Linked DNA regions of Homo sapiens. The protein of the gene in region 1 interacts with the protein of each later gene in a pairwise test. Each region holds a gene or a part of one and is shown on either strand. Other genes may lie near its edges.

Region 1 (10,647 bases):
GCAGGGGGTCTTGGCTCTGGAGCCACCAATAGCCTTTCCTTGGTGGAAAACCCCAGGGCCTCAGGAGACCAAGGTCTCCAGGTTTGATCCTGGAAGTACCTTTCTCTGGGGCTGTAACTACTCCTGCTTCCAAATCTCATGTCAACAGCCCCTCACATTTCTGCCCACCTCTCTCAGACCTAGTCCTAATCCTGGGGTTCTGAGCACCAAACTGTGCCTACCGAGAGTGAGCCCCATGATGCCTTTGGGGCCTGGCTCATACCCTGCTGGGTCATTGTCAAGGCTGGGTCTCCCCTTGATCCTTAGAAAGAATGAGACTCAGGAGCCAACATGACGGCCAAAGCCCCGAATGATCCTTCAGCCAGCCAGAAGAGGGCCTTCAGGGAGGGCCATGGAAATGAAGGGACCAGAGAGCTGCCAAATGCCAGGGACCCTGTGGCGGCTCAGAGTGAGACCCAGCTGGCGACTCAGAGTCCCAGCTAAGAGCCCGTGGTCTTTGCAAGCCGAGGTAGCCAGCCCCAAGCATACCTGGTCCAGCCATGCCATCCTCTCCCACTTCATCTTCTTTCTAACAGCTAAAGACCATACCACTCCAACCCAGCCCCAGGTAGGCCTGGCCTAGCAAAGCGGCCCAGACAGTCCACCATGGCCACCACCCTCCTGCCTTTGTGACGTCACAGCCTGGTTGGGTGTGGCTGCGCATGGACCCTTCCAGGCTCCATGAGGTTCCTGTGTATCAACAGCTGCAAAGGCAAAGGGATTGGCCTCCTGGGCAGAAAGGGGCCAAAAGGGAGGGCCCTTTGGAGGAGCGTGGCTCTGGTGAGGGGTGGAGGTGAGACCCACACTTATGCTCTGATGCCTTGCAACTGATTTCCTCCAGATACAAACAGGGCAGCTGAATGGGGAGATGGCCTCCCCCATCAGAGGCAGTTCCCAGCCAGCTTCCTTGGATGGCCACACAGGAATCACTCCACACACCATCCCTGAGAAGCAGAACCACAGGGAAACCTCTTGTCCCTCTGGAAACTCAGTTACAATCAGTTCAGCACTTGAAGGAAGGATCTCGAAACATTACAGCCCGAAGAACAAGAGGGTGAAACTGTGGAGGCCTCAGCATCTTCTACCCAGAGTGTGCCCAAGCTATACCCTGGGGCAGCCACCAGCATCAAGAGCTTCAGGCCAGTAGGGAGCTAGGGGACCTCTTGGTCCCATTTCCTTGATAACATCAGAAATCTGAAGAACAACTCTCCAGCAAGGCACGGGCTTCAACTGAAGCCCTCTTCCCAAGTCATACTAAAACAAGAACTGACCCCAGCTGCGGGTGCTTCTCTCTGCCCGCACATCCCTCTTCCAGCCTGCTCCATATGCAGCCCCACACAGTGGGGGTTCCTGTTGGGATTGTGTGTCTGGGGCAAGTGACCTTACCACCCCAAGCCTCCATTTCCTCAGAAGTCAAACAGGGATGGGGATGCTGACTTTCCGGGGTAAGCGTGACTCTCCGCCCTCTCTCCAGCCCCCTGGCTCTGGAGTGGAAATCTGGGCTCTTCTCGAGCTCAGTCAATACCAGCCATAGATATAACAGGGCACTGGGGAAAAGATGGGGCAAGGAGAGGTCATTTGACCCATGACCTCTGACCCTCCCCCACCTGCCACTGGCACAGCTCCTGTGGGAATCCATTTCCCTTGTTCTTTGGTGTTGGGTGGATTTAGAGAAAGGAGTCCTGATGGCCTCTCAGAATCCAAGTCCTGAAACAAGAATGGGGACACACACAGAGGGGCTCCAGATCCACTCCCTGCTCACTATCCTCCCAGACGCCCTCCTGAGGCCCTCCAGTACCAAAGAGGGCAAGAGGCCACCCCAGTCCCCTCCCATCACAGACCTTTCTGGCAGCCTAGAAAGGCTAACCCAACTCTGCCCTATGAAACTGCTTCCCTGAGCATCATTTTCAGAGGAGCAACACCTCTGTGTGGCTATAAAGAGCCTACGTGATTGTGACCATCCCTGCCTCCCACTGGCTTTCTACAGACAGACACATCCTTGGAGCAGCACACTGGATGCAGCTCACCCATTCCCAGAGACCCAGGCTGGGTACCAGGGGCCCCTTCTTCCAACCCTTGGCCCACCCCTGGCAATCTCTAGGTCAGGCTTCTGAGCACCAAGACTGGCTGCTCAGCTCCCACCTTCACCAGCACCCTACTACCCACATCCACCCCCTACACACATACACATACAGCCCCAGCAATGCACTTCCAAGTCTGAGTTTCCCTAACAGTCTCACTCTGAACCCTTCTCCCTGCATCCTTGGGAATGCTGGAAGCCTGTGGCCTGCAGTGGGGGAGAGGCACAGTTGGGTCTGTCCTGTTCCTCCTGCCCTCCCTGCTGACCCCCGCCCCTTGGCTGTTTATCTTGTCATCTCTGGCCGGGTTGAAGAGGGTAAGGGGGTGAACAGCAGAGCTGAGATATGGGTCAAGCTTGTCTCCTGGGCCAGGAGTCAGAGACATCTCCTGGGCTATCCATTTCCCTCAAACTGTCAGCTGCGAGAGCGCAAGCAGAAGCTCCATTAAGCCGAGAGGGCTGGTGGGCTTTCCAAAGAGCAGGACTGCAATTCCTCCAGGCTTTGCAGCCCCATGGCCCTGGGCTGAAGCAAGGGGAGGTGCTCCCAGAGCAGCACCAAAGGCAGGTCCGGCCCCCTTAAGTCCGTCGAAGGGGTAAAGAGCCACCCAAAATGCCTTCCTCCAGACCTTGGCCAGGACCTCAGCACAAACCCTTCTCAGCTGCCTACCCATTGCTGAGGGTCCCCAAGGGCTGGAAGCCTTGGGGGAAAAGAGGTGAGAATTATCCTCTGAGCAATTCCAGTATGGTCCACACCCTTCTCCAGGGTGGTAGGTTAGGAAGGGGTCACCTGGCCGAGGTCAACGAAAGAAAAGAGGAGCAGACTCTCCAGTCCCCAGCCCTCGATCTGTCCTCTCCTTTGCGTCTGCTGCCATCCCCACCAAAGAAAAATAGCAAGGAGAAAAGAGCAGGCCACCACTGGTCTCCCTCGGAGGGGGCAGAACCAAGCAAAAGCCAGCCAGAGTTGAATGTTCCAAATGAACCGATCCGCACGATCACACAAGAAACCCCTCTCCTCAAAACACACGCCCTCTCCTCTCCCTGCGCCATCCTGACTCGGAATAGTTCCGAGCAGTTATCAAAGCCCAAACTGGGAAGGGATCTGTAGGCGCCCAGATGCAGATGAGGGTGGCAAAGGGGTGTCTCGGAAATGCCCAAAATGGGGCTGGAGAGGGCGGGCTGCAGGAGGGGAAGGGAAGAGGTAGGCGTCCATGACGGCCTCCACACGTCCAAAGTCTCCCCGCGAGCAGCCAGCTCGCAACTTGTTTACTTGTCAGCATGTTTTGCTGTTTCCAAATGGAAATAGTTAAACACCTCGGCTGGATCGCGAGCAGTCCCTATCTGTCACCTTCCCTGCCGGCTAAGCGCTGCCGCCGCTGCCACCGCCGCTGCCGCCTCTGCCAAAGAATCGAACCTCGTCTACTTTATTCCACTTGAGCGTGGCCAAACTGTTGCTATTTAGTGGGGAGCAAAAAAAAACAATTTGCACCATCGAAACGAGCCAGCAACTGGTTGGGAGGCGGGCGGTAGCTGGGCCCCGCGTGCCCTCGGCGGCCGGGGTCCTCTCCGGGGAGAGGCACACACACGCATAGCCGGATCGCGCCTCGCCAGGGCCGGAGTCACCTGGAATGCGCAGCCGGAGAGCATCTCCCGAGCCAGAGCGAGCCTGACGCGCGCCCAGCGGGCGGCGGGCAGCGGCGAGCTGGGGCGGGCGGAGGGCCGGCTCCCGGCCGCGGGTGGGCAGGAGGGAGACGCAGAGCGCGGGGGAGGCAGGCTGGGGAGCGGCCGCCTGACTTACATGGAAGTGATATTCCTTGAGATGTCCGTGATGTTGATACTGGCGTTCCCATTGCTGTTCCCTGAATCCTGCCCTTCCAGGAGGGGGAAGAGGTTCCCATCGTCCGGCCGCCGGCAATTGATCTCAGTCTTGCTGCAGACACAATTTGCAGGGCAAGCCAGCACGGAGCCCACATAGTCCAGCCAGACGCTTCCCAGCAAGAAAATCCGCCAGAAACTACACTTGGCTGGGCAAAGAGAGACATCCATCTCCGATCGCTGCTTCTAAAAAAGAGGAGGAGGAGAGGAGAGGGGGGTGGGGTGGGGGGAGTGGGGAGAGCAGGGGGGGAAGGAAACAAAGACGGCGAGGGAGGGGGGAAGGGGGAGGGGGGGCCTCTGCCTTTGAAACGCCGAGCGATCAGATGCAAAATCCTTCAGCGTCTGAAACCATCGCGGACGCCGCCGCCGCCGCCGCCGCCGCCGGGTGGGAGCCGCGAGGAGCGCCTAGTGGCGCGGTCTGCCGGGCATGGTGGCCGGCTCGGCGATCGCTGACTCGCCGGGTCCGGGGGCTCTGGAAGCGAGGCGCGCTCTCCGACTCCGAGACTTTGCAGGGTTGCAACAGACGGTGGGGAGGCAAAAAAAAAAAAGGAAAAGGAAAAAATGGTGCTAAAGTCACCAAGTCCCACCTACTGGGCAGAATTAAAACGGACACACCACGCACCTGCAAAACACACACACTCACTCTCACACATACACACACCCGGAGCCCGAGGAAAGGAAGAGAAGGAAGATGCAGTAGGAGCTGCAGCAGCCGCCGCGAATGGCTCGCCGCGCGGCTGCAGAAATGTACAAGTGCTCCGAGCCTTACGAAACGCACGGGTTATCGGAGCGTCTTCCTCGGCTCCCTCCCTCCCTTCCTCCCTCCCTCCTCCCCTCCCTCGTCGCGGCCTCCTCCCCCCGCCCCCCGCCCGGGCTGGGAGCGGCAGGAGAGCGGAATCTCCCCCTCCCTCCCCTCCCCACACCCGTCTCTCTCCCCGCCTGTCCTCTCCCTCCTCCCCACCCACCCACCCACCCACTCGCCGGCTCGCGGCTGTAGCCGGCACCGCCACCCGCAGCCTCGCGGCAGCCCGCCCGCTCCACGCCTCGCAGCGCGGCGCCCGCTAGCCGCAGCCCGGGGGAAACCGAGACCGAAGGGAAAAAGTTGCATTTGAGATTGCGAGGGTCGGGGCTGGGGAGGGAGAGTTGGCGAGCTGGCTGCACGACACGGAAAGGCGCTCTCCTTTCCACTTTTTGGCCCTCGCGCTACCCGGTTTTGCTGCAATCCGGACCGCGGTAGGAAGTGAAATGAACGTGGCGGAGGTGATTGGGGAGTGCTCCCAAGCCTTGGGTGGGGGGCGCTCCCAAGCCTGGGTGGGTGGGGGGCGCAGGCTCACGGACGGCGACGGGGGGTGCCGGAGCGCACAGACACCCCAGAGAAGCACCCAGAGCCGGGGACCGGGACCGCAGACGCGCAGTCCTTGGTCTGAATGACACTCATTTCCGTAATCTAGAGTCTGGGGCTCTGGTCTTGGCTGGGAGGGGACTGCGGGACATGGCACGCTAGGTGCCCCCCGTGCCCGCTGCGCTTTCTTGGAGGTGGGTTTTGCATTCGGCCTTGAGCAGGCATGGATCGGGGAAGGAAGAAACAGGGGTCGAAAGGGCTGCGCTGGAGAGCCGAGGTGGCCCCGGGCGAGCTGTGCGTGCAAGAGAAATGGCCGGGGGAAATTGAGATGCAAGGGGCATATTTTGGCAAGCGCCACGCCAGCACCGTCAGAGGCCGGCTTCTCGGGCTCAGCTCTCGGGTGAGCTGAGCTGGCTGCCGGGTGAGGGGGCGGGCGGGCTGCTTTCTCCGGATTCGGGGGCGCAGAACCTCCTCCTTCCCTCCCACACAAGCACCCCTTCCTGGTAGGGACGCAAAGCAGGTGCAGCTTTCGACGAGAGCTCAGATCTCATCCGGGAAAGAAGTGTGTGTGGGGGGGGCCCCGCTTTTGCGCTGGTAGGGATTTTTTTCTTAATAAAACATAAAGATGCCAAGTGTGAGCTGTTTGCTGAAAAAAAAAAAAACGAGCATTCGCTGTGGGAAAGGAGAAGAAAGGGTTAGGGGAGTCCGAGCAGGCAGACACACTACAGCATTCACACGCAGAAGAAAGCAGGGTTCTCCTTCCCGAGCTTGGAGGAGGGCAGGCGAGGAAGCAAAATACATTGAATTCAATTCAACTGCATCCAGTATCTGAAAGGAGTCTCCCCCGCCCCCCTGTGGATTCCGATGCAGGTCATGCAACTTGCAGGCAAGATGGGGGAAGGGGTATGCCGGTGTCACCGCCTGCCCCAGGCGCAACCACAAACAGGCCGGTCGCCTTCGGGTGGCACTGTCGCTTGGAGTAAAAACTTGGACGAAAAAAATGGAAGAAAAGAACATGCCTATACAAGGCAGTTTTCCCGACTTCCCGTCACGTTCCACCTTCCCTTGGCCCCAGGGAGATTTTTACCCCCGTCGCCATTATGGCCTTGTCTCCAGACTGGCATTTTGCCCTCCCACCAGCAGGCGGGGACAGAGTGTGAAGACCTCCTTGGACTCTCAAACCACTTGCTACTGGCCCTAGGCCAATCCTGGCTGTCCTTAGGCCACTGGGAATTTCCCTGTCACTTCAAGTGCCATTCTGGGATTGGCTTTAGAATATCTGAGAGTCAGGAAACTGAGGTGTAGTCAGATCCTAACACTTGGCCTCTCTTGGGAGGTGGCAGGTGGCAGCAGAGAAACACAGCCTCTCTCAGACCACTCCTGGGCAGGGAACGCCAAGTGGATTCAGCCCAGCATCAGTGCTCCAGCCTGGAACTGAAATGGTTGTGTCCAAAAGATGCCCAGCCCACTTTTTTGAGAGAGAGAGAGAGAGAGAAAGAAAGAGAGAGAGAGAGGATTTTTAACATGTCAAGCAGAGAAGAAGAGACATCCATAAGTTAGAACAACAAAAACAACAACAACAAAAAACCTTTAAAAACCCCTCTGGATTTGGTAAAAATGCAGATTGTGGAGCAAGGGGCCCTGATGGGCAAGAAGTCTTTCATCCTGACAGTAAAATGGGATTAAGATGGGGTGCTACGTTTATGCTCACACTCTGGGCCTGAGCAGGAAGCGACAGCTGAAAAAGAGGGAAGCCCTTTCAAAAGCAGGTGACGCATGGACACATAGAGGGGACAATGCACATGAGGGTCTACCAGAGGGTAGAAGGTGGGAGGAGGGAGAGGATCAGGAAAAATAACTCATGGATACCAGGCTTAATACCTGGGTGATGAAATAATCTGTACGACAAACCCCATGACACATGTCTACCTGTATAACAAAGCTGCACATCCTACACACGTACCCCTGAACTTAAAGGTTTAAAAAAAAAAAGCAGGTGATAGACTAGAGTGGGGAAGAGCAGAATTTCATTTCTAACCACAGGGAAATGACAAGCTTTCTGGGACTCCGCTTTCCCATCTGTAAAATGACCACGTTAAGACCAGATCCTCAAAACCCAAAGTGTGGCCCTCTGTCCAGTAGCATCCATATCACCTGGAAGCTTGCAAGAAGTGCAGCATCTGAGGCCCCATCACAGACCTCCCAAACCAGAATGTCCATCAGAACAAGCTCCCAGGTGATTCATAAGCACATCGCAGCCCCATAGTCATCCCTCCCAGCTTGAAGATTCTCTGATTCTACATGGATCTGGGCCAAAGGGACTGTTGAGGGAGAAAAAAAAAAAAAAGGTGGGGAATGATGGGGATGGGTCCTCATAATGTTATTCAGTTACAGTGAAGTTAGGGTGAAATAAACTGGGTATCTCAGAGGCAGGGGCCTTGTCAGAAAAAGACATTTGAAGTTTCATTCTAAGCTTAAGAAGATGAGAATGACCTGCTCATGCACTGCTCACAGAAATCATAGTGCAGGGTCAATAATAGTGCACACTCAGAGTTTGCTAGTTCTTAACCTCTGCAGTAGGCCAAATTTAAATGTGGGAGCAGAAGAAAGTCTCCAGCGTAGACACCCTCCCCTCAGTAAGAGTCCAGAGCATTTACAGTGTCTCACCTCTTGATAAGAATGTCCTGGTTGAAAAGGAAAAATGCCTGTCGCTTCATGGAGTCCTGGAGATATCATGACCAAGCTCAGCATCCAGCCAACCAGGGGTCACCCCCCAACCTCCTCATCTCCTTTGCTACCAGCTGGAGTCTTAGAAAGGAGGAAACTCACCCGTGTGCCCCTTGCTGATCAATAAGAGGCAGGAATAGGCAAAGTTTTTTGTTTTGTTTTGTTTTTTGAACAGAAAGTAAAGCTTTAGAAACCCTTTACAGGCGAGCAGACACCTTCCAGTACCAAGGGTTTGGAGAAGACAGAAATGTTCCCAAGATTCGAATGCAATCTTTCACCAGACAGGTCAGAGTGGGGACCACTTGCTGGAGCACAGTGGCCCAACTCCCCTGACACCTAGAGAAATTGAACACGTGTCTTTCTTAAAAGGCATGTTCCAGGCGTGCAAGCACCTGAGATTAATATCAACTGTTTATGGGAGATTTCCAGCAGCCCACATTCCCCTCCACCTAGCAAGGGAGAAAGGGAGTGGAAACTCAGAGCAGAGCCCTGCCAGTCTATTGGTCACCTGTCTGCCTTTCTAACCCAGCCACATCCCTTTTTCCAAAGGACCCATACTCCTGAGTCAGTGGCCACATTACCGGGATGTAGGCCACACACCAGGCAGGTCCATGGATTCACCCACCATGCCCTGCTCCTATGGTGTCATTCTGAATCCAAGAGCTGTGCTTCACAACTTTCAAGTTTGAGCAGAAATAGGATCTACTTCTGCAAGTCTCAGCTGGTCAAGAAACTGTGATACTGGGAGGTGACTGGGGAGCACAGCGGGCTACAAAGGGAATACTAGGTCCTGAAGGACTTGCTGTTCTAAAAGAGCTATCTGGAGCTGGCAGATCTGGGCTTGGGCTAGAGGAGGAGTTCTGTTTCTTGGGTGGCCCAAGCATAAGTTACAAGGGAAAGAGACAGGTCTGGGCCTGGTTGGAGGCTGGGGATGTATAATGCTATCCAGAAGCTCTGGGTCCAAGGAAAGAATTTTGACCATACATGGAAGATGAAAGCCCACCCACAAAAGGGGACAGTCAAGCACCAAAGTGGTCCAGGAAAGCAGAAGAATTCAACCATGGAAGAGCCAGCTCAGGGCTCCCACTCAAGTCCCAATATCTTGGACAAACACCTGCCAGGAGGTTGGGACTACCTGCTGGTGGTGTCCTGCTTGAACACCTTCAGTGGCAGGAAGCTCATTACCAGCCACTCCAGAGCCTTCGACTCTGTTCTCAGACAGCTCCATTCCTTGGGTATCCTTGACTTTGACATAGCGAAGCCAGCACCCTAAAGCTGCCACCCTCGTGCTAGTGCTGCCACCTAGACCCTCAGGGAAAAGTCTCACCTCTTTTCTGCAAGCCACCCAGGAGGCTACTCACTGCCCCTCTCTTCTCTGAGCAAAGCCTCAGTTCCTTCCCTATACTCCAAAAGCACAGCTTTCTGATCTTTCCCCACTACAGCTATTGGAAATGCATTCGGTTTGTCAAAGTGATCGGTTTAAATAAAGCATGGCTCCAGATCACACCGGCTTGAGGTGCTCTGACCTTGGGGAGCCAGGCGGTAAGCAGCTGTAATGGGACTAAAATGGTGTCATGTAGGGTTTACTACCCGCTAGTATCGAACCCTAGCAATGTACTTAAGGCTCTCCGCCTCAGTTTCCCCTTCTGCAAAATAGGATCTAACTCACAAGGTTGTCATGAGATAACACAGTAAGGCACTTTGAATAGTGCCTGGTGCACATAAGCATGGTATGTCAACTTTATTATGCCACTTTTGAGGTTCCCAGAGGGCTTTACCACCCAGCAGGGAGGCCCCAGCAGCCTTTATCCACTAACAGCCAAACACAATGCCGCCATGAAGCTCTTCCCACACACATTGCAGCACCCCCTGGCAAGTTGGTGCAATGGGTCGGGTGCAGCCACCGCCCACAGATACTCTCTGGCTCTGGTCCTAGACCCCAAAGTGGTGTGCTGCCAGAGAGGGTTCAGTGAATCTCGGGTCCCTGGGGAAGAAAGTACAGAGCGCAGGCCCAGGTACATCTCCCCTGAGATGCAACTCCTCAGCCCCGGAGCCCCTCGCTGCTGGTTCTCATGCCTTTGAGTTGCTCCTTCTGGGCTTTGGTCCCTTCCATAGGAAGGTAGACCCTGCTGAGTCACCACCGGCTCTGAGCAGTTGAGTTGGGCTGGGAATTTAATGCCGCACGTCCTAGGTCCTGCAGAGGCAGTGACTCACAAGGCCTCCCTGGCCTCTGAGTGTCCTGGTGGGGGCCCTGCAGGAGCAGATGCTAGAGCCCTTCCTTAGACAGCAGGATCCAGGGCAGGCAGCTGACTTCCTGCCAGCAGGTGAGCACTGCAGGCAGGTTAGGGGAGCCAGGGAAGAGGGATTCCCACTCCATGAGCCAACTTCCCCCAAGGTATGAAATCAGGAGTCAAGAGTCAGGACTCACACTTTTAGGAAGCCAGAAACCTGCAGGTGGTTGGCAGAGGCTAGTGCAGCACCACTGACAGGGACTGAGGGGAATGGAGAGGCTGGAGAATTGCACCTCCACACCCACCCTCCATTATAGACATAGCCCTCACGTGCCTTCCTAGATGAGCTCTCTCGGAGT
Region 2 (9,192 bases), on another chromosome or scaffold:
ACAAACTTTGTAAACAGGTCAGTAAACATATAGCAAGCCCTGTCTTTAGTATCTGCTGAGCAGGGGGAGGGCAGGAACAGCAGAACTCGTGAGGAAGCCACTGCAGTAGTACAAGTGGGCAGCGGTGGTGGTGGCAGGGGACACAGTGAGAAGTGATCTGACTCTAGGTAGATTTTCAGGGCTCCACACCTCAAAGGTTCTCGGGCTTTTTGCAAGATGCACCCACCCTGACCCTCTCCATTTGCAGGACTTTGAGGATGATCCTCGGGCCCTGGGGGCCCGTGGGCACCGTCGTTCTGTCAGCAGAGGCTCCTACCAGCTGCAGGCGCAGATGAACCGTGCCGTCTATGAGGACAGGTATGCACCAGAGGCAGCCAAGGCGGGGGGCGGGTTGCGAGGAGGAGAGGGGCCCTGGGGCAATGGCAGACTGAACACTCTCGCATCTACCTCCTGTCACCCCTCACTTCCTATTGGGGCCCAGGCCCCCTGGCAGCGTGGTGCCCACGTCAGCAGCAGAGGCAAGTCGGGCCATGGCCGGGGACACGTCACTGAGCGAGAACTATGCCTTTGCGGGCATGTATCATGTTTTTGACCAGCACGTGGATGAGGCAGGTGAGCCAGTGGGTAGCGGGTTCCATCACCAAGCGTTTGCCCAAACTGTGACAACCAACCAAGGCATCCTTTTCTGAATCCAAGGCCCCTGGCACACTCCAAAGGAGGAATGACCATCCATAAAGCCTTTTGTAGACTGAAAATCCCTCTGCAAAGTGGTCAGTGCTTCGTCTACTGGAAAGGGCCTCAGAAGCCTAAGAGAGAGCCCTTTGCAGCAGGCTGCCTGGGTTCCTGAGTCACTTGGAAGAGTTCAAAGCCTTTGCTGATGATAAATCCCCTTGCAGAGGGCAGAGTGGGCTACAGTGTCAAGGGTTTTGCAAATTGCCAAGACCTTGATTATAAAGTGTTCGCTAAGACAGGAACTTTTTCATGTTGCAGAAGACTTTTGCAATCTGCAAAGGAGCTGCTAAGACTTAGGGAGCTTTGGCAGAGGGTCTTCAGGGGTTACAGTTCCCTTTGTCAGCCAAGGAAAGCCCTTTGCTGAGGCCACTGTTCCTCATGCAGTGGGGCCCCAGCCCCAGGCACACACGTCAGAGCCTTTTAGAGAGAAAAGTGCCCAGTGAGTGTGCAGATTCCCACTAATGGCTTCTTGGCATTGCAGTCCCAAGGGTGCGCTTCGCCAATGATGACCGACACCGCCTGGCCTGCTGCTCACTCGACGGCAGCATCTCCCTGTGCCAGCTGGTGCCTGCCCCACCCACAGTGCTTCGCGTGCTACGGGGCCACACCCGTGGTGTCTCCGACTTCGCCTGGTCCCTCTCCAATGACATCCTCGTGTCCACCTCACTGGATGCCACCATGCGCATCTGGGCCTCTGAGGATGGTCGCTGCATCCGAGAGATCCCTGACCCCGATAGCGCTGAACTGCTCTGCTGCACCTTCCAGCCTGTCAACAACAACCTCACTGTGGTCAGGCTCCAGGACACCCACTCACCAAGGGCTGGTGGGCTGGGTCAGGAAGGCTATCTGAGGGAATCAGAGTATAAGGAGGGACAGCCAGGGGGGGCCTAGGACCCCCCCACCCCCCACCCAATCTCGTCAGAGCAGTCCTAGTGTGGTCAGACTTAAAAGGGAAGCAGATCAGAAGACGGGAGTGGGCCAGGCGCAGTGGCTCACGCCTGTAATCCCAGCACTTTGGGAGGCGGAGGCGGGCGGATCACGAGGTCAGGAGATTGAGACCATCCTGGCTAACACGGTGAAACCCCATCTCTACTAAAAATACAAAAAATTAGCCGGGCATGGTGGCGGGCGCCTATAGTCTCAGCTACTTGGGAGGCTGAGGCAGGAGAATGGTGTGAACCTGGGAGGTGGAGCTTGCAGTGAGCCGAGATGGCACCACTGGGCGACAGAGCGAGACTCCGCCCCCACCCCCCATAAAAAGGGGAATGCCGTTCTTGATCTGGGTTGGCCTTGCTGTGGTACACTCCAGGGAGCACGGGCCAGGGTCAGGGTTCTGGCTCTGGAGCCCCTTTGGTCCCATCAGCTACAGTCCTACAGTTTTCCAACTGCAGGGGCTACCTCTGAGGAGCAGGATGATGAGGCTGAGCCTCGTCTGGTCTGTCAGTGGCCCCACCGTGTCAGACTCCAGGGTAGATTGGTCAGAGAGCAGGGGAAGGACATTAGAAAGTCTGGTGTGGCCCGGGGTGTAGTGGGGTGAACTGCAGAGGAACAGACCAAGAGTGAGCTTGTGGGCCGGGATCCTCCCCGCATTAGCAGCAGCCCCACAAGTTCCAGAAAGGAGCAGCCAGGGAGCAGGGGAAAGCTGGGATCACAGGCCTAGGCAGGCCCTATGGTTCTCACACTGTAGGAGGACTGGCCAAGGGGCAGCATGATGGCTCTGAAGGCCCTTTAGTCCCGTAGGCAGGTGGCCTACTCTGGGCAGATTGCAAAAGGGGCTGGCTAGGGAGGTGGATTCATGCCTGGTCACCTTGTCTACCTGCCACAGCCCTATTGTGAATAGACTCTAATAGGGACCAGCCAGTCGCATCAACAGCAGCCCCACTGTGGTCAGACTCAAGGAGGGCCTGGCTGGAAGCAGGATGATGGTCTGTGCATTCTCCCCACAGGTGGGGAACGCCAAGCACAACGTGCATGTCATGAACATCTCCACAGGCAAGAAAGTGAAGGGGGGCTCCAGCAAGCTGACAGGCCGTGTCCTTGCTCTGTCCTTTGATGCCCCTGGCCGGCTGCTCTGGGCGGGTGATGACCGTGGCAGTGTCTTCTCTTTCCTCTTTGATATGGCCACAGGTAGGCAGACAGCAGGCCTGCATCTGGGTGCTCGCCCTCCAGCCCTCCCAGGGCACAGCCCTCACCCTCACCTTTGCCTTCCCTCCCTCTGCTGCTGCAGGGAAGCTGACCAAAGCCAAGCGTTTGGTGGTGCATGAGGGGAGCCCTGTGACCAGCATCTCAGCCCGGTCCTGGGTCAGCCGCGAGGCCCGGGATCCCTCACTGCTCATCAATGCTTGCCTCAACAAGTTGCTGCTCTACAGGTGGGTCCCCCATCAGGGCCTCCTGGAGACGGAGGACCTGCCTCCTCCAGCACACTGGGACAGTAGCTCATCTCCTCCATCAGGTTAATTTAATTGAGGGAGCAGTAGTAGCAGTAACAGTAATAGCAGTAGTGAGCGCGTTTACAGCCATCACTGTGGCCAGGCCCTGTTCGAAGCAGTTTCCACGTATCACCACATTCAATCCTTGCACCGACCTGTGAGGTAGGTGCTGTTATTATCTCCATTTTGCAGGTGAGCAAACTGAAGCATAAAATAGATTAGGGCTACTTAAAGCAGAGACCTGTTTTCCTTTCTTCCTTCCTTCCTTTTTTTTTTTTTTTTTTTGCGGGGAGTAGTGTGGGGGTTACTGTCCCCACTCACATCTGTCATGTTACCCAAATGCAGTTCTCAGCCTGGGCCACACATTGGAATGACCTGAAGAGCTTCAAAAACTCCTGTCTGGGCCCCTCTACAGGCCAGTAATTTCAGAAGCTTTGGGATGGGCCTGGGCATTGGTAGATTGAGAAATTCCCTAAGCAATGTCTGGCCAGTCCTGAAAACCACTGCCTAACAGGATGCTTTTTATTCTACCCCTTTATTTCTCTCCTCCTTTTTAAACAATTTCTGTATATATACTTAACAATTTTTTAATTTAAGCGTACCCTTAAGTTTGCCCATTTCCCACAGCCTCTCCTTTCTTCCTCCTGCCACCTCTGGCCTCCTCCTGCCACAGTAAAGCCCATTAATGATCCACATCTTTCCACATATCCTTCTCTTTCCACAAATCCTAGGCGTGTACATATATCCATGTATGTTTTTGTTTGTTTGTGAGACAGGGTTTTGCTGTTACCCAGATTGGAGTGCAGTGGCATGATCATGGCTCACTGCAACCTCCAACTCCTGGGCTCATGCGATTCTCCCACCTCAGCCTAAGTAGCTGAGATTACAGGCACACGCCACCATGCTCGGCCAACCTTTTTAATCTATTTTTTGTAGAGATGAGGTTTTGCTGTGTTACTCAGTCTGGTCTTAAACTCTTGGCCTCAAGTGATCCTTGTACCTTGGCCTCCCAAAGTGCTGGGATTACAGACGTGAGCCACCTTGCCTAGCTCCCACCACAGTTTTGAAAGAAAGACGTTTTAAAGAAATGGCCTTTTCCGGCCAGGCACAGTGGCGCACTCCTGTAATCTCAGCACTTTGGGAGGCCAAGGCGGGTGGATCACCTGAGGTCAGGAGTTCAAGACCAGCCTGGCCAACATGGTGAATCCCCGTCTCTACTAAAAATACAAAAATTAGCTGGGCATGGTGGCAGGCGCCTATAATCCCAGCTACTTGGGAGGCTGAGGCTGGAGAATTGCTTGAACTTGGGAGGCGGAGGTTGCAGCGAGGCGAGATCGTGCCATTGCACTCCAGCCTGGGTGACAGAGCCAGACTCCATCTCTTAAAAAAAGAAAGAAAAAAGAAATGGCCTTTCCTACATTTCGAGTTTCTCACCAGGCAATGCCTTGTGGAAACCCCCCCAGGTTACCTGTGGGGACAGTGTTTTATTCTCTCTAAGGGCTGTGCAGTTTTCCACAGTGTGGGCATACCATGGTGTGTTCATTTCCTCTCTTTGTGCTTATCTTAATACCAGGATCTTTTAGAGACCCTTACAAAGAAAAACTAGTGAATGAAACTGCAGAGGCTCCCATTTATATCAACAGAGACAGTTTCTGAACCATCAGTAACTCACACATCAGCCCCTACTTATAGTTTATGTAGTCATCTCAGAATTGGGTTTCATAAGCTGGGTGTGGTGTGTGCCTATAGGTAGTCCCGGCTACTCGGGAGACTGAGGCGGGAGGATCACTTGAGCCTAGGAGGTTGAGGCTGCAGTGAGCCGTGATCGCACCACTACACTCCAGCCTGGGTGACAGAGTGAGATCCTGTCTCAAAAACAAAAAAAAAAATATGGGTTTCATGAACCCTGTAAAGAACTTAGGCACAGGGGTGGGGACACAGGCCCACAACTTGTCTCCCTGCTAGGGCTGGGGCTGTGTTTTGACCCACTCTCTCATCCTCTCAGGGTGGTAGACAACGAGGGGACCCTGCAGCTGAAGAGAAGCTTCCCCATCGAGCAGAGCTCACATCCTGTGCGCAGCATCTTCTGTCCCCTCATGTCCTTCCGCCAGGGGGCCTGCGTGGGTGAGTCCTGTAGGGACAGGGGATCTGGGTGGCTGGGGAGGGGCAGGAACCAGGGCTGGTGCCAACCTGGCTCAGACATCACGACACCGATGCCCTGACTTCCTGGACCTCATGACCCCTCCTGCCCCAACAGCCTCACTGTGGAACTCACAGCTCCAAACAGCTCAGAGAACTCACAGTTTGCACTTGATCTCGGCCAAAAGGCCGAGAAGTGATGAAAACTCACACTTTGAACGCACTAACTCCCCAAACAGCCCAGAGACCTCGCATTCTGCACACAGTACCAAAACAGCCAGGTGACCTCCCATCTAGGGATGGGGCCCCCTCAAACCTCCCCAAGCCATGCTAGGACCTCACACCTCGGACATACACCCTTCAACACCTCAGACACCTCAGGGACTTCCCACCAGGGGCACCCCAGGCGCCTCCCGATGGCCTCTCCCTCTCACCCCGACAGTGACGGGCAGTGAGGACATGTGCGTGCACTTCTTTGATGTGGAGCGGGCGGCCAAGGCTGCTGTCAACAAGCTGCAGGGCCACAGTGCACCTGTGCTTGATGTCAGCTTCAACTGCGACGAGAGCCTACTGGCCTCCAGTGACGCCAGCGGCATGGTCATCGTCTGGAGGCGGGAGCAGAAGTAGGGTCCTGTCGGCCCTGCTGCTGTCCTCCATCCCACCCCTCTTACTCCAGCCTCGTGTTGTAAATAAAGTTTCGGTGGTCATGCTGAGGGCCGGCTCCCAGCTCTGCCGGGGACGGACAGGGCAGAGGGCAGCGGGCAGCTCCAGGAACACGGTGGAACGGGGTTCATTGACTCATTTGTGCATTCATGCATCGACGGATTCATTCATTCCACAAGCATTGATTGAATGTCTGCTGGGTTACAGGCCCTGCCTTAACTGTTTTACACACTTATGCATTCGATAGACATTAGTGAGCCCTGACCGTGTGCCAGGAACTGTTCTAGGCACTGGGGATACTGCTCTGACCTAAACTGATGGAAATGCCTGCCTTCATTGGGCTTGCATCATAGCGGAGACAGTAGATAAAAACATGGAACAGGCCAGCTAATGATGAGTGGTATGAAGAAAATAAAGCAAGGATGGGAGACAGAGCTGCAGAAGTTGGGGGAGTGGGCTCTTTATGGTGACAGCATCAGGGAAGATGATCCTGACAGGGTGACTTTTTTGTTTTTGAGACAGGGTCTCACTCTGTCACCCAGGTTGGAATGCAGTGGCATGACCATAGCTCACTGCAGCCTCAACCTCCAGGGCTCAAGTGATCCTCACTTAAGCCTCCCAAGTAGCTGGGACTACAGGTGTGTGCCACCACACTCGGGTAATTTTTGTATTTTTAGTAGAGACGGGGTCTCGCCATGTTGCTCAGGCTGGTCTTGAACTCCTGGGCTCAAGCGATCCACTCGCCTCAGCCTCCCAAAGTGCTGGGATTACAGGCATGAACCACCACGCCTGGCTCAGGGTGACATTTAAAGACCTGAATGAAGTGAGTGGGAGTCATAGTGTAGGGGGAGAACATTCCAGGCAGAGAGAAAGCCAGCCTAAAGGCACTGAGGCTGGAGCGCTCCAGAAGGATCATTGTGTATGCCAGAGTCTTGCTGGACCAGAGTGTGACAGTACATGAGGTCAGACAGGCCAGATGCTTCATGGGCCACAGTTAGGACTTTGGCTTTTTTTCTGAGTGGGGGTGACCAGAAGGTGTCAAGCAGAGGAGGAACATGATCTGACTTGGTCATAGAGGCTCCCTCTGGCTGCTGAAGGGGACAGATTGGGGGTGGGGGTAGAAGCAGGGGACCCAGCAGGAGACCCCTCTGAGCGCAGTGATGGGGACTTGCACCAGGGTAGTGACAGTGGAGGAGTTGGCGGGGGAATGTTGGGTCGGACCCCCAGGGGGTTCACTATGTTAGGCTGCAGGACTCTGCTGCCTCCTCAGGGGGCGATATTCCCAACCCTTCTGTGCATTGTGTTGTTTATTAAAAGCAGGGAGCAGAGGTGTTGAGTCCTGGAGCCCCAAGCTGGTGCAGGAGCAACGGGAAGTTAAGGCTGACCTGGGGCCTCCTGCTGTGTGGCGGAATCTCCATCCCTCAGACCACCCCTGTCTCCTCCCAGCCCCATCCAGGGTACAAATTCCAGCCCTGGAACAGCTCAGAGACCAAAAAGTGATGTTAAGTATTTGAGGGGAGCCCCAAGAGAGGAGAAAAAGCTTTGAGTATTGATGGGGGTAAATAACCAAAATCACTTATCAGTGGCCTGCGTCACCAGAAAATGTCAAAGTTACCTGAAGCAGCAAAGAGGCTCTTGCTCCGGCCCCTCCCTTCCTTCTCAGCTCCATTTGTTGCCACATATGCGTTGACTGGAACTGCGACTGACATCTTGGGACCTTAGGGTCAGTCCACAGCGTGGTAGAGACTCCAGCTTGGCCCAGCATTGCTGAGCTGCTGAACTCGCACCAACAGTCTTGTTGGAGGGAAATAATCTCCCGTTTGTTCAGTCCAGTTATTTGACAGTGTGGTTACTTGCACCCCAAGCATTTCTAACTGGCACTTCCATCTAATAGACCTCAGGGTACATGGTGGTGAGATAGGGACATCAGTGAGCTGGATTGTTCCCATGGTAAAGGTCATGTATGTGTGTGTGTGTCATGGTCCTCAATACCAGCCCCAAGCCCAGTGATTTGCTAGGAGGACTCCCAAGACTCAGTATGTGGTTGTATTCATGGCTACGATTGACTTATTACAACAAAAAGATATGGAGCAAAATCAGCAAAAAGAAATGGTGTGCAGGACCAACTCCCAGAGAGACCCAGGCACAAGTTTCCAGGGCTTCTCTCTCATTGGAGTCACACAAGATGTGCTCGGTTCACAGTAATGGGTTGTGACAATACATGCGAAATGTTGCTGACCAAGGAAGCTCAATTAGAGACTCAGCACCCAGAGGTTTTTTTTGTTGTTGTTGTTGTTTTGGTTTTTTTTTGGCGGGGGGGGGGGGGTCTTGCTCTGACGCCCAGGCTGGAATGCAGTGGCATGATCTTGGCTCACTGCAGCCTCCACCTCCTGGGTTCAAGCGATCCTCGGGCCTCAGCTTCCCGAATAGCTGGAACTACAGGCGCGCACCAGCAAGCTCGGCTAATTTTTGTATTTTTAGTAGGGATGGGGTTTCACCATGTTGGCCAGGCTGATCTTGAACTCCTGACCTCAAGTGATCCTCCCACCTCAGCCTCCCAAACTGCTGGGATTACAGGCGTGAGCACCTGGCTGGTATCAAGTTTTTATTGGGGCATGGTCACATAGGCACCCCCTGCCTGGCACCTACCCAAATCCCAGGCTCCCAAAAGGAAAGCAGGGGCTCAGCATAAACCACCTTTTTTTTTTTTTTTTTAATTGAGACGGAGTCTCGCTTTGTCGCCAGGCTGGAGTGCAGTGGCGTGATCTCGGCTTACTGTAACCTCCGCCTCCTGGGTTCAAGCAATTCTCCTGCCTCAGCTTCCTGAATAGCTGGGACTACAGGCGCCTGCCACCACCACGCCCAGCTAATTTTTGTATTTTTAGTAGAGACGGGGTTTCACCATATTGGCCAGGCTGGTCTCCATCTCTTGACCTTGTGATCCGCCTGCCTCGACCTCCCAAAGTGCTGGGATTACAGGCATGAGCCACCGCTCCTGGCCCACTTTTTTATACAAACAGCTTAGGTAGAGTAAGCCATTCTTTTTTTTCTTTCTTTCTTTTTTTTTTTTTTTGAGACAGGGTCTCACTTTGTTGCCCAGGCTGGAGTGCAGTGGCTCAAACATGGTTCGCTGCAGCCTCAACCTCCCAGGCTCAAGCGGTCCTGCTGCCTCATCCTCCAAAGTAGCTGGGACCACAGACATGCACCACCATGACCCCAGCTGATTTTT
Region 3 (10,259 bases), on another chromosome or scaffold:
ATAATTAATGCCCTAGAGATGGCTGTGACCACGATATTGGATATCAGCCCATGTCTTCATCTCTCTTGGTAGAGGCACATGCTTTTGAGCTGCTGATTGTACCCACAAAGCCTATCTATGTGTTCTAAGTTTTTTGACATAAAATTTCCTCTCCTCTTTATAGAGTATTACTTTAACTTTCTGGTTATTCTTTCTACAACCCTTGCTGACCAGATACTATGAGTGAGGCATGGAAAAAGAATGGTATACGATAGTATTCAGGATGTTTTTGTTATATGTAAAGATGAATAGGCCATTTAAATAACTGATCAGCTTGATTCTCCACTTCCAAATTAATATCCCCCTTCCAGACAGAACAGCTCTGCGTGTAACCTCTTACCACATCCTCTTGTAGAGTGGCTTTTTATCCCGGGCATTTAAGAGAGGGATTCTCTATTTCAGTGCAGATGACTCCATCACCCCTCTCAGAAACTGGGCTATTCTGTAAGGGTGTGTGTGTGTGTGTGTGTGTGTGTGTGTGTATGTGTGTGTCCAACCAAAGACACTATTCCAAATAATTAAAGAATTTGGCATTTTAGGTAAGCCCACATTCTGGTTAATTGAGAATTGCCACTTATGTACATTACTAGGTTATAAGCAAATAGGGCAAAAGGCTCTCAAGGTAGTTACTTCCTTTGTATTAATTAGAAAAAGAACACTCAAGAGTTTAATAACAAAATCACACACCTTTTTTGGACGGTTGATATCTTGTTTCTGTGTATCATGACTAATAGTAATGCTGTAATTCATCACATTAGGAAAGTAATCAACAGTTCTAGCTGCACAAAATTAAAATTGATTAAGACCCGGCGTCACCCTGGCAGAAGCTAAAATTACATCAGTGTTAACTCTACGGCCAATAGCCAAAAGTCTTTTTAGTCTCTTTTGGTTTAAAAAGATCTGCTATATAAAATCTAGTGTATACAAACTAAGCAAAATGGATTAGAATAAAATAATGTTGATATATTTAATATAAATAGTTCTGCAGAGAAAGCTACTCTCATGTTTATTGACCACTGGTAGAACATCACTATGGACTGGGTGCTGTGCTAGGTGCTCTGCAAATTTGATCCATTTTATCCTCACCAAATGCATGAAGGTATGTTGGTGCCAGCCTCCCACGATAGATGAAGAAGTGGGGACTATAGGAATGAAGTAACCAATTCAGGAGCCCAGAGCCACAGCCAAGACTCAAATCCAGGGATGTCTCAAATGGTTGAACAAAGCATCCTTTCTAATCAATGAGCAACTGTGCTGTCTAAGAAGACCTTGTACATGAGTACAGGAAATATCTTTCACAGATCTAGATTCAAACACTGGGAGAAAAACACTCTTCTTAGAAATCATGCCCTTACTTTTACAATCAAGAGTTTTCCGAAGGATAAGCAAAACTGGTCAATATCCAGGGTCTCAGAGGATGTTCTCCTTGGAGGCACAGCTCATCAATCTCTTCTTGAATGTTGCAAACAATGGGCCAGGAACAGAGAGGGATGGAGGAAATGAAGAGTCATTAGCCACAATAAGTGTCCTTATGAACAGCTCTGATGTCATTTATCTCCACCTTCCAAGAATCCTGGATGGGCTTGCATAGGCAAGTGACAAATATTGTTAATTAAGTCTTTGAAGATAATGGCAAATGTCACTAAGAAAGATTTGTGTTGAATATTACATCAACTCAGCGTTCTTTCCTGGCCACGATGGCCAATGTGAGGTGACATGAGGTTAGGACAGTCATGCCTGTGCTTGGATGAAGCGGAACTCTGTTCTGAGTATGCAGAAGTTAGATTAGAGATTCTCCAAAAACCTTTTTCCAGATGGATGGCAAGAGTGAGGCAGTGGCCCCCAATTCTGGAATAAACCGGTGTTCTTGGCTGGTGTGAGACCATGTATTAGACTCTAAAGACGGTCAGAAGCAGTAACCACAACACTCTTTGTTCTACAATTCTGAGTGTGCTGATAATATGGGCAGGAGTTAGAAGGGAACTATTTTTCTGACTTTTTCTCCCAGGCTGTCCCTGCAATATCTACCATTTCATGAAAGAAACAATCTTAAACTAAGTTATACAGAGTACTTGATTCATGTTTCCTCTCTTTTTTATCATCCTGATTCTACCTTTATGGCAGAGAGAATAAGCCATCTCATGATTGCCTTGGACCAACCATCCCAGGCCAGTAGAGAAAGATACACCTATTTCCCCAGGAGCAGAGAGGTTGTCCATGGTGGGGGCTGGGTGGTGAAACTGCACAACATGGCCAGTTGAATCTTCCTTTAAAAAGGTCCTATCATCAAGTGGGGCACATAGCATGATTAGAGGCCAGGGGTTGCCTTTATTCACTTCTGCTTCCTCCTCTGCCTAATCCCTGTACCTGAGGGAGCCTTACAGATCCCCCAAATCTGGGTGATGGAGCAATGAACCATATAGGCCCATGTTCCCCTGTATTATCTCATCCTATACCTACTTTTTATATTTGTCAATAAAAAGTCTATGGCTGTCTTGTTTTTTGCAATCCATCCTTATGAATGCTCTACTACTAAAAACATAGAACAACCTTTATGGGACAATTGGAAATTTGAACACTAACTCTACATTTAATATTAAGGAAATATTAAACTTCTATTTAGGAGTGAGAATGGTATTGTGAAAATATTAGGTTTGTCTAAGAGTGCATGGCTTTTAGATCTACGTAATAAATATTTTCAGATTGAATGACATGATGTCTAGGATTTGCTTCATAATAACATGGGAGGGATGGCAGCCAGAGGACATATGGATGAAACAAGATTGGGCTTGAGCTGATAATCTTTGAAGCTGGGTGACGAGTTCACTGTACTGGGTTTGGTTTTTGGTTTGTTAGTTGTGTGTATGTTAAAAATGTCCCATAATAAAAGCTTTTTTAAAAAGAATTAAAATTGGTTATTTTAAATTAATATTAGAAAATTGTATTTCTCAAAAATATTTTATGTGCAATTATCATGATTTATAATGTTAAATGGAATAGGAAGATCTAAAACATATAAGGTACAAAGTACTGCATGTAAAGTACTGCATATACACATTTGCTTTTATATGTACATGTAAGTGGAAGAAGAAATGATGCAAATGTAAATTATGGTTGCCCCTGACTGGTGAGAATACATATTATTTTTCTTTATTCATTGTTACATTTTTGTACCTCCCAAATTTTCTAGAGAGAAAATAAACTATATTTAAAATTTTATAGTTATTTTTATATATAAGCCATGCTTGTGACATATTATTAGATTTTTTAAAAAAGATACAGAACTATTTGTGAAAAAGAACCTCAATTCTGTTTTAAAATGTGTGCACATGGTAAGTGTGTGAATGTATCTAAAATGAACAGCATCAAAAAAAGAAACAAATCTATATTCTAGATTTTCATAGACAAAAATAAATAAATATATAAATAAATAAAATGAACAGCATCAGTTGTTAATTGTGGCTATCTCTAGATGGTGACGTTATTGGACAATTTTTAGTTTATTTGCCTCTCTGTGTGTTTCTTCAATTAATAAGTATAATATTATAATCAGAAAAATGTGGCATAAAAAATAAAGCTAGATTTATTATACTTCTTTATAAGGGTTAGCTATATAGGGCAATATAACATACAAGTAACTACATAATATATACTTACAAAACACATATGTAAGTCCAAAGGAATTTTAAATTCTCAAAGTATGTTAAGCTTTTAAACGATGATATAAAATCTTTTCAATAGCCAATATTATGTGATGATGCTCTTGCCTTCATATACTTAATTCCTTAATAATCATGTTTCATTTTCTGTTCAACTCCAGGTATATCCATGCCAATACCAGTCTTTGGGCTACAGGACGATTCGAAGGTCTTTAAGGAGGGGAGTTGCTTACTCGCCGATGATAACTTTGTCCTGATCGGCTCTTTTGTGTCATTTTTCATTCCCTTAACCATCATGGTGATCACCTACTTTCTAACTATCAAGTCACTCCAGAAAGAAGCTACTTTGTGTGTAAGTGATCTTGGCACACGGGCCAAATTAGCTTCTTTCAGCTTCCTCCCTCAGAGTTCTTTGTCTTCAGAAAAGCTCTTCCAGCGGTCGATCCATAGGGAGCCAGGGTCCTACACAGGCAGGAGGACTATGCAGTCCATCAGCAATGAGCAAAAGGCATGCAAGGTGCTGGGCATCGTCTTCTTCCTGTTTGTGGTGATGTGGTGCCCTTTCTTCATCACAAACATCATGGCCGTCATCTGCAAAGAGTCCTGCAATGAGGATGTCATTGGGGCCCTGCTCAATGTGTTTGTTTGGATCGGTTATCTCTCTTCAGCAGTCAACCCACTAGTCTACACACTGTTCAACAAGACCTATAGGTCAGCCTTTTCACGGTATATTCAGTGTCAGTACAAGGAAAACAAAAAACCATTGCAGTTAATTTTAGTGAACACAATACCGGCTTTGGCCTACAAGTCTAGCCAACTTCAAATGGGACAAAAAAAGAATTCAAAGCAAGATGCCAAGACAACAGATAATGACTGCTCAATGGTTGCTCTAGGAAAGCAGCATTCTGAAGAGGCTTCTAAAGACAATAGCGACGGAGTGAATGAAAAGGTGAGCTGTGTGTGATAGGCTAGTTGCCGTGGCAACTGTGGAAGGCACACTGAGCAAGTTTTCACCTATCTGGAAAAAAAAAAATATGAGATTGGAAAAAATTAGACAAGTCTAGTGGAACCAACGATCATATCTGTATGCCTCATTTTATTCTGTCAATGAAAAGCGGGGTTCAATGCTACAAAATGTGTGCTTGGAAAATGTTCTGACAGCATTTCAGCTGTGAGCTTTCTGATACTTATTTATAACATTGTAAATGATATGTCTTTAAAATGATTCACTTTTATTGTATAATTATGAAGCCCTAAGTAAATCTAAATTAACTTCTATTTTCAAGTGGAAACCTTGCTGCTATGCTGTTCATTGATGACATGGGATTGAGTTGGTTACCTATTGCTGTAAATAAAAATAGCTATAAATAGTGAAAATTTTATTGAATATAATGGCCTCTTAAAAATTATCTTTAAAACTTACTATGGTATATATTTTGAAAGGAGAAAAAAAAAGCCACTAAGGTCAGTGTTATAAAATCTGTATTGCTAAGATAATTAAATGAAATACTTGACAACATTTTTCATTCCTGCTTTTTCATAGATACCATTTTGAAATATTCACAAGGTTGCTGGCATTTGCTGCATTTCAAGTTAATTCTCAGAAGTGAAAAAGACTTCAAATGTTATTCAATAACTATTGCTGCTTTCTCTTCTACTTCTTGTGCTTTACTCTGAATTTCCAGTGTGGTCTTGTTTAATATTTGTTCCTCTAGGTAAACTAGCAAAAGGATGATTTAACATTACCAAATGCCTTTCTAGCAATTGCTTCTCTAAAACAGCACTATCGAGGTATTTGGTAACTTGCTGTGAAATGACTGCATCATGCATGCACTCTTTTGAGCAGTAAATGTATATTGATGTAACTGTGTCAGGATTGAGGATGAACTCAGGTTTCCGGCTACTGACAGTGGTAGAGTCCTAGGACATCTCTGTAAAAAGCAGGTGACTTTCCTATGACACTCATCAGGTAAACTGATGCTTTCAGATCCATCGGTTTATACTATTTATTAAAACCATTCTGCTTGGTTCCACAATCATCTATTGAGTGTACATTTATGTGTGAAGCAAATTTCTAGATATGAGAAATATAAAAATAATTAAAACAAAATCCTTGCCTTCAAACGAAATGGCTCGGCCAGGCACGGAGGCTCGTGCATGTAATCCTAGCACTTTGGGAGGCTGAGATGGGAGGATCACTTGAGGCCAAGAGTTTGAGACCAACCTGGGTAACAAAGTGAGACCTCCCTGTCTCTACAAAAAAAATCAAAAAATTATCTGATCCTTGTGGCACACAACTGTGGTCCCAGCTACAGGGGAGGCTGAGACGCAAGGATCACTTGAGCCCAGAAGCTCAAGGCTGCAGTGAGCCAAGTTCACACCACTGCCATTTCCTCCTGGGCAACAGAGTGAGACCCTATCACAAAAAAAAAGAAAGAAAAAAAGAAAATGACTAAACTGAAATGGTCTTAGTCAAAAAATATATACAGACTTATTTTTAGAATCATTTCAACTTATTTCCTTCTTACCTGGTTCAGAAACAAGTTTGTTTCAACTGTGAGAGTAGTTTTAAAAATAAGTTTTCCTGATTGGTTACCAATAAACACCAAACAAATAAAGGAGGGGGAAAATATCACTTGAGGCTTAACATTGCAATTAATTTAGAAATACGCACCTCAATCTCAAGCCAGTTTATAACTACCATAGTTTTGAGCAAAATTTTTCTTCTATTTCTCCAAAAACTCACTCATTTCAGTATTACTCATTGACACTGGGCTCCCTAATAGAAAAGCAGATATTATAATATTTCATTGAAATGGTTACTAAAGAGAAAAAGAGATTAACAACAGTTAATCCACCTTGATATTATAACACTCAAGGTTAAATTGCATGTTGTTATTAGAATCAATGTTATATATATGATTACAATGCTGAAGCATTTCTATTGAATGAGAAATAGTGTTTGCCCTAAACCTTTGGGAAAAAAATACAGATTTGAAAACTAAAGAATGTGGGAAGTGTCATTGTGTAATTTGGAAATGCATAAAATTCTCATTATGTCCTCATAGATATGTTGAAAGATGGTTCACTGTTTCAAAGATAGAATGTATAATATGCTGCTAGTACCAAGGCTGCATTTGAACTGAACTACTCCTTATGATATACCATACTAACTGATGAAAATATAAATGTTAAAATGTCTCCACTCTAATGTATTTTGCCTTCACTTGTAACTCTGCACATTTCATTATATATTAGGGAAAAGATTACAGATTCTACCCCCATATACTCAATCTTGATCAGAATGTACATTAATGTTGCCTGATAGATGTCTTTTGACTACCTATATATTACAAATGTGTATGTGTTTTTTTCTTCCATAAGTATCTATTCAAGTGTATACTGTATAGGCAAATGTGTAGCTGTATATATGTACAGACATGTTCTCATGCACTTTATTCAATATTTATATATTTATATGGACGAAAAGCAAGTCAATGAAAACACTCAGTATATACACATGTGTGCATGTTTGTATCATGTTTATTTAAATGTGAATTCATGTTCTAATATTTCTATGACCTTCCATTGCTGCAAAGCAGATTAAAGTGTAACAAAAATATCAGCTCTTTAAATAAACTGGAAATTAATCTAATTTTGTGGAAGAACTTTAAGACAAGTCTATGAGGATGGCGAAAACAATGGTCCACATATATAGTTTCTTGATCCTAAATAAAATGGTACCTTTGGGCCCTTTGTTTAGTCTGGCAATTTTCTGACTACTATGGCTTTTTAAACAGACTCACACCTAAGTGAAACACAGTTGTCAAATGATTTATGGATCTGTGATTAAAGGATTCACTTTTAATGAATACTATTAAAACGGAGTAACAAACCTTGCTCTACTTTAAGTTGAATGATAGATTCCTCTATATTCAAAAAAAAGCAATTAACTGCCATAATTAGGGAAAACTGTTTAAAGCATACTGCATTTACTTGGCCACAGCGCCATCTCATGGTAATTTTTTAAAGTGCTACCGTAGCCAAATTGAACTAAGTCACTGTACTGCTTTCAGCAAAGGGTGCTCCTCCCATTTGTGCATCAATGAGACATATTTATAAAGTGCTAAATTATTCTGTGCCATATGTAACAAATACAGTGAAGATTATTTTATGAACTTATTTTAATCAAGGCGATGCTAAAAGTTTTCAAGAAAGGATAAATAACTGTAAATAAAGTAGACTCAAAAATGAATGAATTTTGTGTGAGTCCATAGCTGTGTCTACTAAACGGAATTACCCCAAATCTTCCAGGTCATCAGACTCAGAACTCCAGGTATCATCCTGATATTCGAGAGCAAAAAAGCCTGTGCTTCTGGAAGTCAGCCATGTCACAGAGCTAGGATCCATCCAGTTGGATTAGCTTTATCGCCATGATCCAGTTTCTAGTTATCTGCAGTAGAAATATGCTCCATGTTTGATCACTATGTCTGGTTCCACGAAGCCTAAGAACATAGAGAACAACTTCAGTGCCCTAAGAGATGTGCACAGGTGCGTGTGGTGTACACCAGGACATGCACACAGGTGTGCACACGCACAGATGCATTAACATATGCACACACACTCTCTCTCTTTCACAGGAGATCATTTCAGGAATTAAAGTAAACCAAGGAGGCATGGTGTCATTTAACAGTTACCCTCATTCATCATTTCATCTTTAACTGCAGGGAAAGTATATTGAGTGCCTACTGTGTGCCAAGCATTAAGCTGGTTGCTTTCCTTGCTTCACCAAATGGAATTTTCACAACAATCTGACAAGGTAGAATTATTTTTCTTTTTTACAGATGAAGAAACAGAGATTCAGAGTAGTTAGTAACATATTTAAAGTCACACTGCTGGCAAGAAAATTGGCAAGTTTAAGCCTGGGTCATCTGACTCCAAAGCATAAAATATTTTCCCAACCTCATGCAGTGCAGGGGAAAGATCACCTGTCAAAACCACAATAGGAGAGTTCCCATGTTGGCTTCTCCATTCACTGCTTATGTGAGTTGGAACCAGTCTCTTAACAACTCTGGGCCTTGATTTCACTGTCTGTAAAATGGAGCTGCTGGTACCCATCCTGGCTAACTGACAGAGTAATTTAGATAAGATCATGCCTATGGCTGTGCTTGATAACTTGTAAAACACCATGTAAATGTAATCAGTGTGTTAGTAAAAAGGAACAACTCCAAAGCCTCTGTAAATTATTAGCCATCAGAGCAAATTCTAGCCAAAACTGTGGGATAGGCAATATTATAATTCAGCAGCTTCTGCTACTCTCTTGGTGTTTCTCTTTTTCAAAAAATTTACTTCTGCTTTGTCCCCACCTTAATGCAGATCTCCCTTCTTTGGTGCTCTCTCTTATGACTTACATAAAAACTTTCCATCCCATATGCCATTCCCTTGGGTGTCAACTCTCTGGAAGACTACTACTAAGTAACTGAAGCTGATATGCCATTGTGTATCATTGACATCTCTTCAGCAGCCCACCATGATGAAAACCCAAAAGGCAGAAATCAAAGGAAAAATGTTAGGCATCAAGGAGACAAGTGAGAAGAAAATTTGGGGACAAGAAATGTTTTCTTGGTATCCCTGAAATGACCAACAACAACAACAAAAAAACAAGTATCTTCAAACACTTCATAACTTATATAAAGTTTTATAACTTAATATTGAATTTAATCCACAATAATAATGATGATTTTGAAAGAAACATTCAAGACTTTGAAGATTTCATTCTAAACTAAGAACATTAATGATGCATTTGTCCCAGCAAATATGCAATGAGACAAGACTTCTTTGTGAATTTCTGATTATTTTGGCATGCGGCTTGCTAAAACAAAATTTTTAAAAATTTTTTCCTTAATGGTTTACACACCAGTCTTAACTCTTTCTTTTTTTTTTTTTTTCTTTTGAGGTGGAGTCCTGCTGTATCACCCAGGCTGGAGTGCAATGGTGTGATCTCAGCTCACTGTGACCTCCGCCTCCCAGGGTTCAAGCAATTCTCCTGCCTCAGCCTCCTTAGTAGCAGGGATTACAGGTGCGCACCACCACGCCTGGCTAATTTTTTGTATTTTTAGTAGAGGTGGGGTTTCACCATGTTGGTCAGGCTGGTCTTGAACTCCTGACCTTGTGATCCCCTCGCCTCGGCCTCCCAAAGTGCTGGGATTACAGGCGTGAGCCACCATGCCCGGCCCAACTCTGACCTTCTTTTTTGATATTAACACCAGTATGTCCATCTGAGCCAGCGTTTTATGGGAAGTCTTCATACCCAATTGGAACCTTTTTTCATGTGGCCCAGTCACAGCAGAAGACAGACAGGAAACCGAGGTCCAGCCTGCTGCTGTTGTCTGACCTTGGACGAATCTGAGTTTTTCCTCCTTGAAGCATATAATAAGGGACTTAGGGTCAATTATCTCAGCAAGGAGTCTCTTCTATGTCTATGCTTATCTGAACACTAGAGAGTCCAGACAAGGCCTTGTTGAACCAAGGCACTGCTTCAGGTGCCAAGGATAATCTGGA

The links.
Region 2: the proteins of NTRK3 (region 1) and WDR13 interact in a two-hybrid assay, tested with the Homo sapiens proteins (one study listed by BioGRID).
Region 3: the proteins of NTRK3 (region 1) and HTR2A interact in a two-hybrid assay, tested with the Homo sapiens proteins (one study listed by IntAct).

Annotation. Positions count from the first base shown.
Region 1 is NC_000015.10:88,251,995-88,262,641, forward strand, and holds the start of NTRK3 (NT-3 growth factor receptor isoform a precursor), read right to left. Parts: upstream 4,746-10,647; 5' UTR 4,650-4,745; intron 4,493-4,649; 5' UTR 4,290-4,492; exon of another isoform or gene 4,175-4,289; 5' UTR 4,160-4,174; coding exon 3,912-4,159; intron 1,485-3,911; exon of another isoform or gene 736-1,484; intron 621-735; exon of another isoform or gene 529-620; intron 1-528. UniProt on the Homo sapiens protein: Receptor tyrosine kinase involved in nervous system and probably heart development.
Region 2 is NC_000023.11:48,599,106-48,608,297, forward strand, and holds part of WDR13 (WD repeat-containing protein 13), read left to right. Parts: intron 1-247; coding exon 248-357; intron 358-481; coding exon 482-612; intron 613-1,213; coding exon 1,214-1,521; intron 1,522-2,678; coding exon 2,679-2,859; intron 2,860-2,959; coding exon 2,960-3,101; intron 3,102-5,166; coding exon 5,167-5,285; intron 5,286-5,742; coding exon 5,743-5,927; 3' UTR 5,928-9,192.
Region 3 is NC_000013.11:46,829,240-46,839,498, reverse strand, and holds the end of HTR2A (5-hydroxytryptamine receptor 2A), read left to right. Parts: intron 1-3,859; coding exon 3,860-4,662; 3' UTR 4,663-7,953; downstream 7,954-10,259. UniProt on the Homo sapiens protein: G-protein coupled receptor for 5-hydroxytryptamine (serotonin).